Homo sapiens: one gene and its partners. The protein of the gene in region 3 interacts with the protein of the main gene of each other region in a biochemical or structural test. Each region holds a gene or a part of one and is shown on either strand. Other genes may lie near its edges. The genes, in order: SKI, PAX6 and NFIX.

What was found.
Region 1: the proteins of NFIX (region 3) and SKI form a complex in vitro, tested with the Homo sapiens proteins (one study listed by BioGRID).
Region 2: the proteins of NFIX (region 3) and PAX6 form a complex in vitro, tested with the Homo sapiens proteins (one study listed by BioGRID).

The regions. Positions count from the first base shown.
Region 1 is NC_000001.11:2,301,210-2,305,026, forward strand, and holds part of SKI (ski oncogene), read left to right. Parts: intron 1-1,768; coding exon 1,769-1,894; intron 1,895-2,075; coding exon 2,076-2,191; intron 2,192-2,630; coding exon 2,631-2,893; coding exon of another isoform or gene 2,894-2,899; intron 2,900-3,083; coding exon 3,084-3,376; intron 3,377-3,817. UniProt on the Homo sapiens protein: May play a role in terminal differentiation of skeletal muscle cells but not in the determination of cells to the myogenic lineage. Functions as a repressor of TGF-beta signaling.
Region 2 is NC_000011.10:31,790,723-31,794,322, reverse strand, and holds part of PAX6 (paired box protein Pax-6), read left to right. Parts: intron 1-208; coding exon 209-291; intron 292-520; coding exon 521-671; intron 672-769; coding exon 770-885; coding exon of another isoform or gene 886-1,059; exon of another isoform or gene 1,060-1,118; intron 1,119-3,462; coding exon 3,463-3,600. UniProt on the Homo sapiens protein: Transcription factor with important functions in the development of the eye, nose, central nervous system and pancreas. Required for the differentiation of pancreatic islet alpha cells.
Region 3 is NC_000019.10:12,993,542-12,997,358, forward strand, and holds the start of NFIX (nuclear factor 1 X-type), read left to right. Parts: upstream 1-1,933; 5' UTR 1,934-2,296; coding exon 2,297-2,323; intron 2,324-3,817.

The DNA of each region.
Region 1 (3,817 bases), on a different chromosome or scaffold from region 3:
CGCCCCTGCCAGGCATAGGCACAGCACCCTGCGGTCAGGGCCTCCGCCAGACGTCATCAACACTCACTTCCCCTCGAAAGCCGCCACATAGAGGGGGTATTTTCAGTGTCTTTTTTCCTGAACAGCTATTTTAGTGTCTCTGAAAAAAACCATCCACAGCCGTGAGCCTTCAGGGGCTGCCTGCCCTGCGTCCCCGGCCCTGTGCGCCCGAGCACTTATCTTTCTCCCTTGGGCCCAGGTCAGAGCCAGGCACCTGCCCCTCCCCTGGCCCCACCCTGCTTGTTCCCTGAGGGCTGCAGGGTGGGTGCACGTGCTGCAGGGGAGGCCACGGGCTTTGGCCAGATCTTCCCCCAGGGCCCTCCATCCCCATAATTGGAGCACCTTGATGGACAGCCTGCCCTGCGCCCCATCTTCCCCCTAGGGAAGCAGGGTCCCTGCTGCCTCCAGGAGGCTGGTTCCTGATGCAGCGTCTTCTCCTAGAGTCCTGGAGGTGGGAAGAGCCCCCGGCCCTGAGTGTGCTCTGTCCACCAAGGCTTCCTGGCTGAGGGCAAGGGCGGAGCCCCCACCGCCCGACTTTGCTGCCTCCTCTTGAGGTTGGCCTCGGCAGAGTGAGTGGGACCTCACCCCTGTGAAGGGCCCCTTGCCCTGTGTGGCCTGTTCTGCATTGGCCTGTGGTGTAGACCTGGTGCCAGCTGCCCTGGAGACTCTGTGCTGTCCTGTGGGGTCTTTGGCAGTAGAGGAATGGCCCATTTTACGGAGACTGCCCTGTGATTTTGCTTGGGAAGAGACCTTGGGTCTCAGTTGTGCCTTGCGGGCAGCACCGTCTCAGGGGTTTCCAGCCGCAGGGCTGTGGGAGTTCACGTTTGCCTGAGGCTGGATGTACCGGCTCAGGCCCCCAGCACACAACCCACATCACTCACTGGCTCTTGGGGGATGTGCCTCAGCACCTGACACACAACACCTGGTTCTGAGTGGGCTGGGTCCAGGCACCTTCGCTAAGCTTCCTCCACCAGCGGGACCTGGTTCTGGGTGGGCTGGGTCTGGGCACCTTCGCTAAGCTTCCTCCAGCACCGGGGCTGGCAAGGAGCGAGGCAAAGGTGTGTGTGGTGCCATCCTGTAGGAGCCAGGCTCCTTGGGGATGGTGTCCTTCATTTTGAAAATGTTTCCTTCCCATGGGGAGGGGGCAGCCAGAATGCCCACTCTTTAATGCACCTGTGCCAGTGGCCCACAGGGACACGGTGTCCCCTCCCCGCGACCACCCCTGTGCCGCAGCTGCCCTTCCCAGACGCATCCGTCGTGAGTGGCTCTCGCCGTGCTGTGGCTGGTTGAGCTGAGTGCCCAGCGCTGGGCACCCTCTGAGGACACACTCGGGTTCTAGGAAAGGGGTTTGGCAGGAGAAGGACGAGGGACTCCTGGCCAGGCTGAGCCGCTGTGGAAGGGGAGAGTGGGTCTTGGTGCTCCATCCCAAACCTGCTGCAGCCGTGGGTGAGGTCACCCGGAATGGCAGGACAAGGTCCACTCTGTTCTCTCGGAGATGACTTGTCCCTCAGCACAGCCTCCACGTGCCTGTTGCGCGTGGCCTAAGGGCCTTTATGCAAAGTGAACTTGGTCTCCTGGGGGGTGCCCTGGAATCTGCCTTCTGCGCCACTCAGGGTCGTTTGTGGCCGGAGTGCATGGGGCTCTGACTGCCATGTGCCAGCCACGGGGCTGGTGGAGGGACCCTGCCCTGGGAACCACAGGTGCCAACAAAACCTTTCATTGATCGCAGGTCTCCTCTGAGCCTCCGGCCTCCATAAGACCCAAAACAGATGACACCTCTTCCCAGTCCCCCGCGCCTTCCGAAAAGGACAAGCCGTCCAGCTGGCTGCGGACCTTGGCCGGCTCTTCCAATAAGGTGCTGTGGGGCCTGTCGGGGTCCTTGGGGTGGTGGGTACTGGGCCCTTCTCCTTGGGCAGACCCAGCGGCTGGCAGCTCCACCTGCCCGCTACTGAGGGCTGGCACCCGGCGCAGCCTCAGGGACATGAAGTGGCTTGTTTTTCTCCTGGTCACTCACACAGACAACTCTTTCTCGACAGAGCCTGGGCTGTGTTCACCCTCGCCAGCGCCTCTCTGCTTTCCGACCCTGGTCCCCCGCAGTGTCAGCGAGTGAGAAAGAGCTCTCCCCACACCTCCCGGCCCTCATCCGAGACAGGTGAGTGGGCGCCATTCACAGGTGTTTCTGATCACGGGGGAGGCTCCACGAGGGCTGTGCATGCGGACGCGCCCATGTTTCTGCAGGCTGGGTGCCCAGACCTGCCGCCTTTTGGTCAGGGCAGTCTCGGTGTTGGTTCCTTTGGCTGGCATCAGGGAGAGCACACCTAGAGCGTTCCCTGTGTTCTGGGTGGAGTCGTGGGTGGAGCCCTGTCTGCTGGGCGCAGCTTCTTGATGTGTTGGCCTGTGTCTGGCCTTCGCAAGAGACCCAGCAAGCAGAAAACGCTTACGGGTTCTTAGGGAACTGTAAGCTTGACTTGAAGATTCGGAGCTGGGAAAGTCTTTCCTGTTTAACACCTTCAGAGGGGGTGTGCGCCAGGATGTGTCTGGGTGGTGCTTGGGGACAGAGGCACCTTCCCGACACCCGCCTGCCCCTCCAGCTTCTACTCCTACAAGAGCTTTGAGACAGCCGTGGCGCCCAACGTGGCCCTCGCACCGCCGGCCCAGCAGAAGGTTGTGAGCAGCCCTCCGTGTGCCGCCGCCGTCTCCCGGGCCCCCGAGCCTCTCGCCACTTGCACCCAGCCTCGGAAGCGGAAGCTGACTGTGGACACCCCAGGAGCCCCAGAGACGCTGGCGCCCGTGGCTGCCCCAGAGGAGGACAAGGACTCGGAGGCGGAGGTGGAAGTTGAAAGCAGGGAGGAATGTACGTGTGAGTCGCTTTCTGTGCCTCCTCCCTGTGGGCTGTGGGGGTGGCACTGGCTGAGGGGGGCTGGTCGCCGGGGGTGCGTTGGTGGCCCCATGTTTCGCAGGTTCCTCCGGGAGCGGCGCGTCTCCCTGGTGTGGAGCTGCCGGGCACTTCCATGACTTTGTTTCTGTCTCTGCTTCCTCCTCAGTCACCTCCTCCTTGTCCTCGCTCTCTTCCCCGTCCTTTACCTCATCCAGCTCCGCCAAGGACCTGGGCTCCCCGGGTGCGCGTGCCCTGCCCTCGGCCGTCCCTGATGCTGCGGCCCCTGCCGACGCCCCCAGTGGGCTGGAGGCGGAGCTGGAGCACCTGCGGCAGGCACTGGAGGGCGGCCTGGACACCAAGGAAGCCAAAGAGAAGTTCCTGCATGAGGTGGTCAAGATGCGCGTGAAGCAGGAGGAGAAGCTCAGCGCAGCCCTGCAGGCCAAGCGCAGCCTCCACCAGGTGAGCGGGGCGAGTGGTGCTGGGAGGTCCAGGGCACGGGCAGTGAGCACAGCCTGCACCAGGTGAACGGGCACAGGTGGTGCCTCCTCCCTTCCTGGCTGCCCCATGCGCTCCTCTCTGCCTCCACCTCAGTGGGCCTGCCTGGGACCTTGGGGGTCCGTCTCCCAAAAGCTGCAGCCCTGGGTATGGTGAGCCCCTCAGTGTCCCCAGGCTGATGGACATCCCAGGAGGCCACTACATTTGGCTTGACCACAGCTTTCCCCATCAGGATCACACACCCTGCGTGGTGGCCCCACTGAGGAAGTAGCCATGTTTCTCTGGTATAAGGGAGGCCGGGCTATTTTTAGTGGCAGAAAGAGTTGGGAGCAGCTGCATGGAGACAGTTCCTTGCTCTGTGTGCTCCAGGAGTGGGTGTTCACGCGCTCCGCCAGCAAGACCTGG
Region 2 (3,600 bases), on a different chromosome or scaffold from region 3:
AGAAAGGTCACTGAATGCCATTCCAAAGAAAATTTAACTTGGTTCTGGTGGGAAAGTTCTTCCAAGTACAGTCAACACTAGAAGCATTTTAAAGGGAATTGGTTGGAGGTAATGGGAGTGGGGAGGTGGGAACCAGTTTGATGCACAGTTTGGTCAACATATTTTGTGTAGTTCTGGCACAATATGGAAAATCAACTTACTCTTTCAGAGTTTGAGAGAACCCATTATCCAGATGTGTTTGCCCGAGAAAGACTAGCAGCCAAAATAGATCTACCTGAAGCAAGAATACAGGTACCGAGAGACTGTGCAGTTTCACACTTTGTGATTCATACCATTTGTCTTTCCTAGAGACAGAGGTGCTTGTACAGAGTACTATTTATTTATAGGACTAATATAATAAAAAGGTTCAGTCTGCTAAATGCTCTGCTGCCATGGGCGTGGGGAGGGCAGCAGTGGAGGTGCCAAGGTGGGGCTGGGCTCGACGTAGACACAGTGCTAACCTGTCCCACCTGATTTCCAGGTATGGTTTTCTAATCGAAGGGCCAAATGGAGAAGAGAAGAAAAACTGAGGAATCAGAGAAGACAGGCCAGCAACACACCTAGTCATATTCCTATCAGCAGTAGTTTCAGCACCAGTGTCTACCAACCAATTCCACAACCCACCACACCGGGTAATTTGAAATACTAATACTACGAATCAATGTCTTTAAACCTGTTTGCTCCGGGCTCTGACTCTCACTCTGACTACTGTCATTTCTCTTGCCCTCAGTTTCCTCCTTCACATCTGGCTCCATGTTGGGCCGAACAGACACAGCCCTCACAAACACCTACAGCGCTCTGCCGCCTATGCCCAGCTTCACCATGGCAAATAACCTGCCTATGCAAGTAAGTGCGGCTGGTGGTGGCCTGCATAACCCAGGCCCCAGAGAAGTGAGGAGTGGCTCAGGGCCTGCGGACCTCATTGGCTGTGTCTGCACCCTTGAGAGCTTTTCGCACTACAGTGATTGGCTTGACCAGTCAAGTCGGAGACAGTCAATCCCATCACTTTTAAGTGATTGACTCATTAATTCATGCCCTAAAAAAATGAGTAATAAAAATCTGTCCAGTTTTGTCAGGTTGATCTGCCTTTTATTATACTGTTACCTTGATAATGTTGGGTGGTGGTGGGGCATGTTTTGGGTACCAGGGAGCCTTGCACCAGAAAGTGGAAATAATGCTGGCACATTATCAGATAGCAGATTAGTAGTTTAAAATTTGGGTTTATATTAATGTGTTTGTATGCTAAATATAGAATCTGTGCACGCATTTGGGGCATTACTTTGGGTATATGTGATAAACTAGTGAGAAAGAAAAAAGGATCAGAAATGGGATTCATATTTACATGGTGAGATATACATAATATAATGAGAATGCTAGTTTTCTGTCTGTATCTACAATAAGAAAAGGCATAGCAGGTATTTGCTGGAAATTTAGTGTGTCTTTGCTGTGAATGGTGTGACGAGTTTGTGGCCCTCCTAGCTGCCTGGGAAGCTTGATGCTATTCACTTGGTATGACAGCCTGCCTCTCCTCTTAGTTCTGTCCCAAATATCTATTAGCCCCTACATTTAGAGGTCCTGCACTAGGTTCACCCTTTATGATGTAAGTTGGATAAGGCAGATGGTTTGTACTAGACCTTTGTTGCTGGATGGATTCTTGATAGGAAAAATGTCTGTCTTCTGGTAGGCCTTTCCCAGTGGTTTTCCTAGAACTCCTGTTTGTGCAACAATTAGAGATATTAGATGGTACGATATTGGCCAGCATGAGCCTCTGCTGGAAACAGTTCTGGGGCTACACTGATTGTTTATTCTCCATTGAACATTTTTTGCTGGATTTCAAATCCAAATAACAGCAAAATAAATGTTTCACAGTCTTCAGACTAATATAGGAGCAGCTAGATAAGCAACTTCAGAGGAATTATTCACATGTTTATTTTTATTGCATCTGGATATTGTTGGCCATAGTGCAATTGATGTAAATTAAGGGATTAACAGCCCATTAGTTGGTGTTGCTATAACTGCGTTGGAATTTTCCAGAAGTCAGGTTGCCTAGAGGAACTCATTGCAGGAATTAGAAACAAATGCAAGCTGAAATTCTGGCAGGCCCTCAAGGCCTGTTTGCCTCTTTGAACTTGATGTTAGCATTCATCATCTGACTTTAATAAGGCCACAGAGTGTCTCGTTCAGTTTCATGTATTATAACAACATCCAGGTTTCTGTGAAGATAGCAAAATGTGTATGTGAGAAAATAATAAGACGAACAAGTAGATGCTGCAATTATATTAGGGCTGTTTCCACATACAGAGCGGTATGGGGAATCAATCTATTTCAAACACTGACTTTTAAAAATTACATAATTTGTATAATTCAAAAAGTACATGCATTCATTAAGCATAAAGAAAATCAAAATGATCAATAACTTTACTCTTCAGAGAAAACTACTCTTTGAATTTTGGAGTGGGTGAGCCCGATTGTCTATCCATTTATTCATTCTCTTGACCAAAATCATCATTTTACAAATGGTGGGTGTCTTCCTCTGGACCTTCTCTGATATGCTTCCCTCTCTGAGCATATGGATTTTGGAAATTAAACATTTCTCCAGTTTGCAGAGAAGAGAAATGATAGTATACTGTACTATCATCTGACCTGCTTGTTCCCGACACACTTCTTTTAATTCATCCCAAGTTTGCTGCCATGGCATAGTACCATGAGAGCTCATGAGGCGTTTTGTTAGGAGAAAGGTTTACCTCCTCAGTGCTGCCATTCCGAACAGTTCGAGGGTAGCAACAGTTTTCTAGTTATAAGTCAGTCTGGGCTTTTGGGTCTGTTAGGAAGTCATGGTTAATTCTCAGGATGGAGGTCGTTATATTTACTAACACTTCTGATCACTTTAACTTGGGGTCATTACAGATCTGCTTCTTCAAAGAATCTTTAATCCCATCAGTGAAAGGTTCCCAAGGTCCCTGAACCATACTTTACTGAGAGCTCCTCCCACTGCTCTCTGTCCCAAAGCTTGAGATATGGGCTCTGGGGGTCATAGGGTTCCCAAATAAATCCAGATTTGCAGGGAGAGGGGATGTGTTTTGATGAAGGTCCTCATGCTATAGGTTCTTCAAAGATGCTAGCAGAGGTTAGAGACAAAAATCCTATTAATTTATGGATAGTGGCAACCATCTAGCTGGACAGTTGTCAGAACCTAAAGTGCTTTAGAGGCTTGATACATAGGCAGCTTTCTTCTAGCTGTGGCCAGTGGAAGGACTAGCTCGAGGCCCAATCTTAGATTTATCATATGGAATTCCAGTACTTCACGTGAAGGCATCTTTAATGATCAGACTTGTTGGCAGAGTTCCTCGGGAGGAGGGAGCCTGGGGCTGTGGCTGTGTGATGTGTTCCTCAGTAACCACAGGTTTGCCTCTCTCCTCACAGCCCCCAGTCCCCAGCCAGACCTCCTCATACTCCTGCATGCTGCCCACCAGCCCTTCGGTGAATGGGCGGAGTTATGATACCTACACCCCCCCACATATGCAGACACACATGAACAGTCAGCCAATGGGCACCTCGGGC
Region 3 (3,817 bases):
TGACCTGCATTTCTTCAGTGTCCCCGGAAGACACCAGACCCATCTAGACACCCACAGACACACTGCCTGCCACACAGCCTAATACAGTATTGTGACAAGGAGCATATCGTTTCTGGGACATTTACACACATACTCACGTACACATGCATACTTTTGTGCCTGCTTGCAAGAGCCCAATGGGCACAGCCAACCCTGTGTGCGTGCGCACCCCCCGCCCTGGGCACTGACACCCCCTTTAACAGACAATGCATAGCTGAGAATTGCCACAGCTTTTTGGCCCAAGAGAGCAAGAAGGTGCTGGTTGCACCTGGCAGCAGGCGGGTGTTTTGTCTCAGCAGGAGCTGCCTGGGGGCTGTAGGCACTGCCTCCCCACCCACCCTGAGGGTTACCAGAGGGCTTCCTCTCCCCTTGCTCCAGGGTCCCCAGCACTACCTCTCCCCCCAGGCCTTTATGTTCTGAAAATGAGGAGTCAGGGCCCGCAAGAGGGGCTGGAACCTCACCAAAGTGTGTGTGTGTGTGTGTACATGTACGGAGGCCCTGATGCCCAATTCTGTCCCTGACAGCTGAGCTGTGGGTCTCCTGCTATATTTGCCTATGTCGATGATCAGGGCCACATTACAAGTGTGTTGGGGGGGGGGCACGTAAGGGACATGGGTGTATGTGTGTGATCCCTGTGTGCATGGCTAGATGATTCTCCCAGGGGGGTTGTCAGCCGCCTGGGCATCAGTTGGTCAGTGTGTCCAAGGCCTGTGGGTACATCTGGGCAACCCAGTGTGTGTGTGTGTGTGTGTGTCTGTGTGTTGTGTTGTGACAGCCAGTGTTGCTTTGTATCTGTGACGCTGTGTATCTCTTTGTATTGGGGTCCTTTGCATTCACTTCCAGGTGTTTGGTGTGTGTTTATGTGACATTGTGTATCTTCCCTTCATTAGTGTCATCTTATTTATTTAGTTATTTTTTTTCAGACAGGGTCTTGCTCTGTCACCCAGGTTGGAGTGCAATGGCACTATCATGGCTCACTGCACCCTTGACCTCCCCGGGCTCAAGGGATCCCCCCACTTCAGCCTCCTAAGTAGCTGGGACCACAGGCATCCACCACCACACCCAGCTAATTTTTGTATTTTTGGTAGAGAGGGGTTTTGCCATGTTGTCCAGGCTGGTCTTGAACTCCTGAGCTCAAGCAATCCACTGGCCTCGGCCTCTCAATCATCAGTGTCATTCTGTACATCGGGGTGTACTGCCACAACTGCCAGTGTGTTCTGGCACTGCGATGTGTGTGTGTTGTGTATGTGTCTGCGTGTAGGAATTGTGTGTCTGGAAGGTGTCAGCGTGTGGCTGTGTGATCTTGCATGTGTCTGTGTTCTGCAGGAACATGCGTCAGTGTGTGTGCATCAGTGTGCATCTCTATGTGTCATGCACTGGTGTGTCTTCGTGTATATCAGTGTGTGTCTACGTGACGCCTGCTTTGGTGTATGTCTATACGCGGTTCCTTGTTGTGTGCCTGGATACCATGGTGGGACGGTGCATGTCAGAGCGTGGGTCGTGGGTGTTTTCCCAGACTGCTGTGTGTGTGTGCCCGTGTGTAGGGGTTGTGTGTCTGTGCCTTGTGTGCACTGGTGTCCGAGTGTGCTTTGTGTTCGAAGGCGGAACGTGTGGCCAGGCGTTCTGGACGTGACATGTGTGGCGGGGTCCGAGTCCCGCTGCGTGTCAGCGTGTGTCTGCGCTGGAACGCGGGCCAGCACGTGTCAGGGCGGCCGCGTCGGTGTGCGCCCCCGCGCGCGCGTGTGCGTGTGTTCGTGTGTGTGTGTGCATGTGTGTGCTTGTGTGTGTGCGCCGGCCGCCGCTCCCCCGCCCTGCCCGCCCCTCCCCGCGCCCCTCCTCCCGCCCGCGCCGCCCGCCCGCTCCCTCTCCCCGGAGTGCGCCGCTTCCAAACTTTGTCTAAACTTTCACTTTCACAGCGCGGCGGCTGCGGCGGCGGCGGCGGCGGGCGAGGGTGACCGGCCGAGCGGCGGCGGCATGGAGTAGACGCGCGGCGGCAGCGGCGGCGGCGGCGGACGCGAGAGGCAGCGGCGAGCGCGGCGGCGGCGGCGGCAGCGGCGGCCCCGGAGCCGGCGGGGCCGAGCTTGCGAGCGGCGAGCGCGGAGCGGCGCCGGGCCGAGCGCGGGGCCGCGGGCCGGGCGGGCGCAGCGCGGCGGAGGCCGGAGGAGCCGAGCCGGAGCCCGAGCCCGAGCGCGGCCGCCGCCTGCCGGGCCTCCCCTCGCCGCGGCCGGCCGCCGCGCTCCCGCCCGGGCGCCCAGCTATGTACTCCCCGTACTGCCTCACCCAGGTACCGGCCGCCGCCCCCGCGCGACCGGGGGAGGGGAGCGGGCGCGGGAGGCCGGCCGGCGGCGCGGGCGGAGGGGACGCGCGGCGGCCGGGAAGGGGGGGCCGAGAGCCCGCGGGCCGCCGAGGGGTGCAGGCTGTGCCGCGGGGAGCCCAGGCACGCGTGCGGGCGTCACCGTGCGCGTGCGACCCTGGCCACCGGGCGGACTCCTTTTGGGGGTTCCGGGGGTGGCCAGCTGCGTCGTGGCGCTGCCCGTGGAGCGCAGGCGGGAGTGCGTGTACGTGTGTGTGTGTGTGTGTGTGTGTGTGTGCGCGCTCGACTGGGGTGCGATGGGCAGCGGGACTCCGGCTGACCTGTGGGCTACTGTAGCGCGCACCCGGGCAGCGTGGTCGCTGGCAGTGTTTGCGGGGTTGACAGAGTGGCAAGAGGGTGGTCCCGAGGGCGCAGAGGGGACACTGGGTCCCGCGACGCTTCCTGGGGAGGGCGCAGCGGTTCCCGAGGGTGGCAGTGGCCGGCGTGCGTGGCGGCGGCCCTTGCGTGCGGCCGGGGTGCCTGGGGTGGGCCGAGCGGCCCGGGCGTCTCCCCAAAGTCTTTGTTTAGGCCTCACATGGGAGCGGGGCTAAGAAAATGGCGGGGCTCCCAAATTTCGGAGGGGCAGGGGAGGGGAGAGGGGGGCGGGCGCGCTGCCAGCGGTGGCCGCGCCTCTCCGACCCCGGACGTCGCAGCCTCTGCCCCCCCACCCCCAAACTTTCCTCGGCGCAAACTTTCTGGCCCCAGCGACCCGGGCTGCTGCGGAGTGGACCCGGCAGGCCTGGGGAATCCCGTCCCGTCGCCTGGAGGCGGGAGGGGCGGGAGGCAGCCGTGGACACAGCCGACAGTGCTGCGGCCACACCGTCGGGTCAGCCTCGGGCACAACAGCGCCGACCTTGGCGCGTTGCTAGAGCGCGTCCCGCCTGCAGCGAAGTTCCCTGCGCGGCGCACGGCTGCGGCAAAAGCTTCGAGGATGCCTGTCGGGCCACCCAACTCTCCCTGGGCTGTGGCCTGAGGCTCTAAGAGGGCACAGAAGCTGCCCAGAGTCCCACAGTGGCCCTGACAGCGTTGCCTGCAGGGCCAAGCCACAGCTGGTAACAGTCTCCGAAGAGGGGACATCTAGGGGCTGCTTAGCCCTGCTGCCAGCCAGGCCTGCATGTGGGGGTTCTCTAGGCCAGGCCCTAATTGTCCCCTCTGCCCAGCCTGATCCTTGTCAGCCATGTGCCAAGTGTGTCCACAGCTTACAGTGGCAGTCCACATGGGTATGGCTCCTACTTTGTCTGGGTCCTACCGGGAGTGTGCAGTGGTGTCAAGGGGCGAGGGGTTTGTCGGGGTGTGTGTCAGCTGTGGCTACACCACACTCCTGTATGCACAGGTGAGAGTGTATGCAAGTGTGAATCAATCTAGAGTCTGTGTGTAGCCCCTGTGGGCCGGCCATGGGCAGGCCTGCGTGGCATGGCCGTGTGT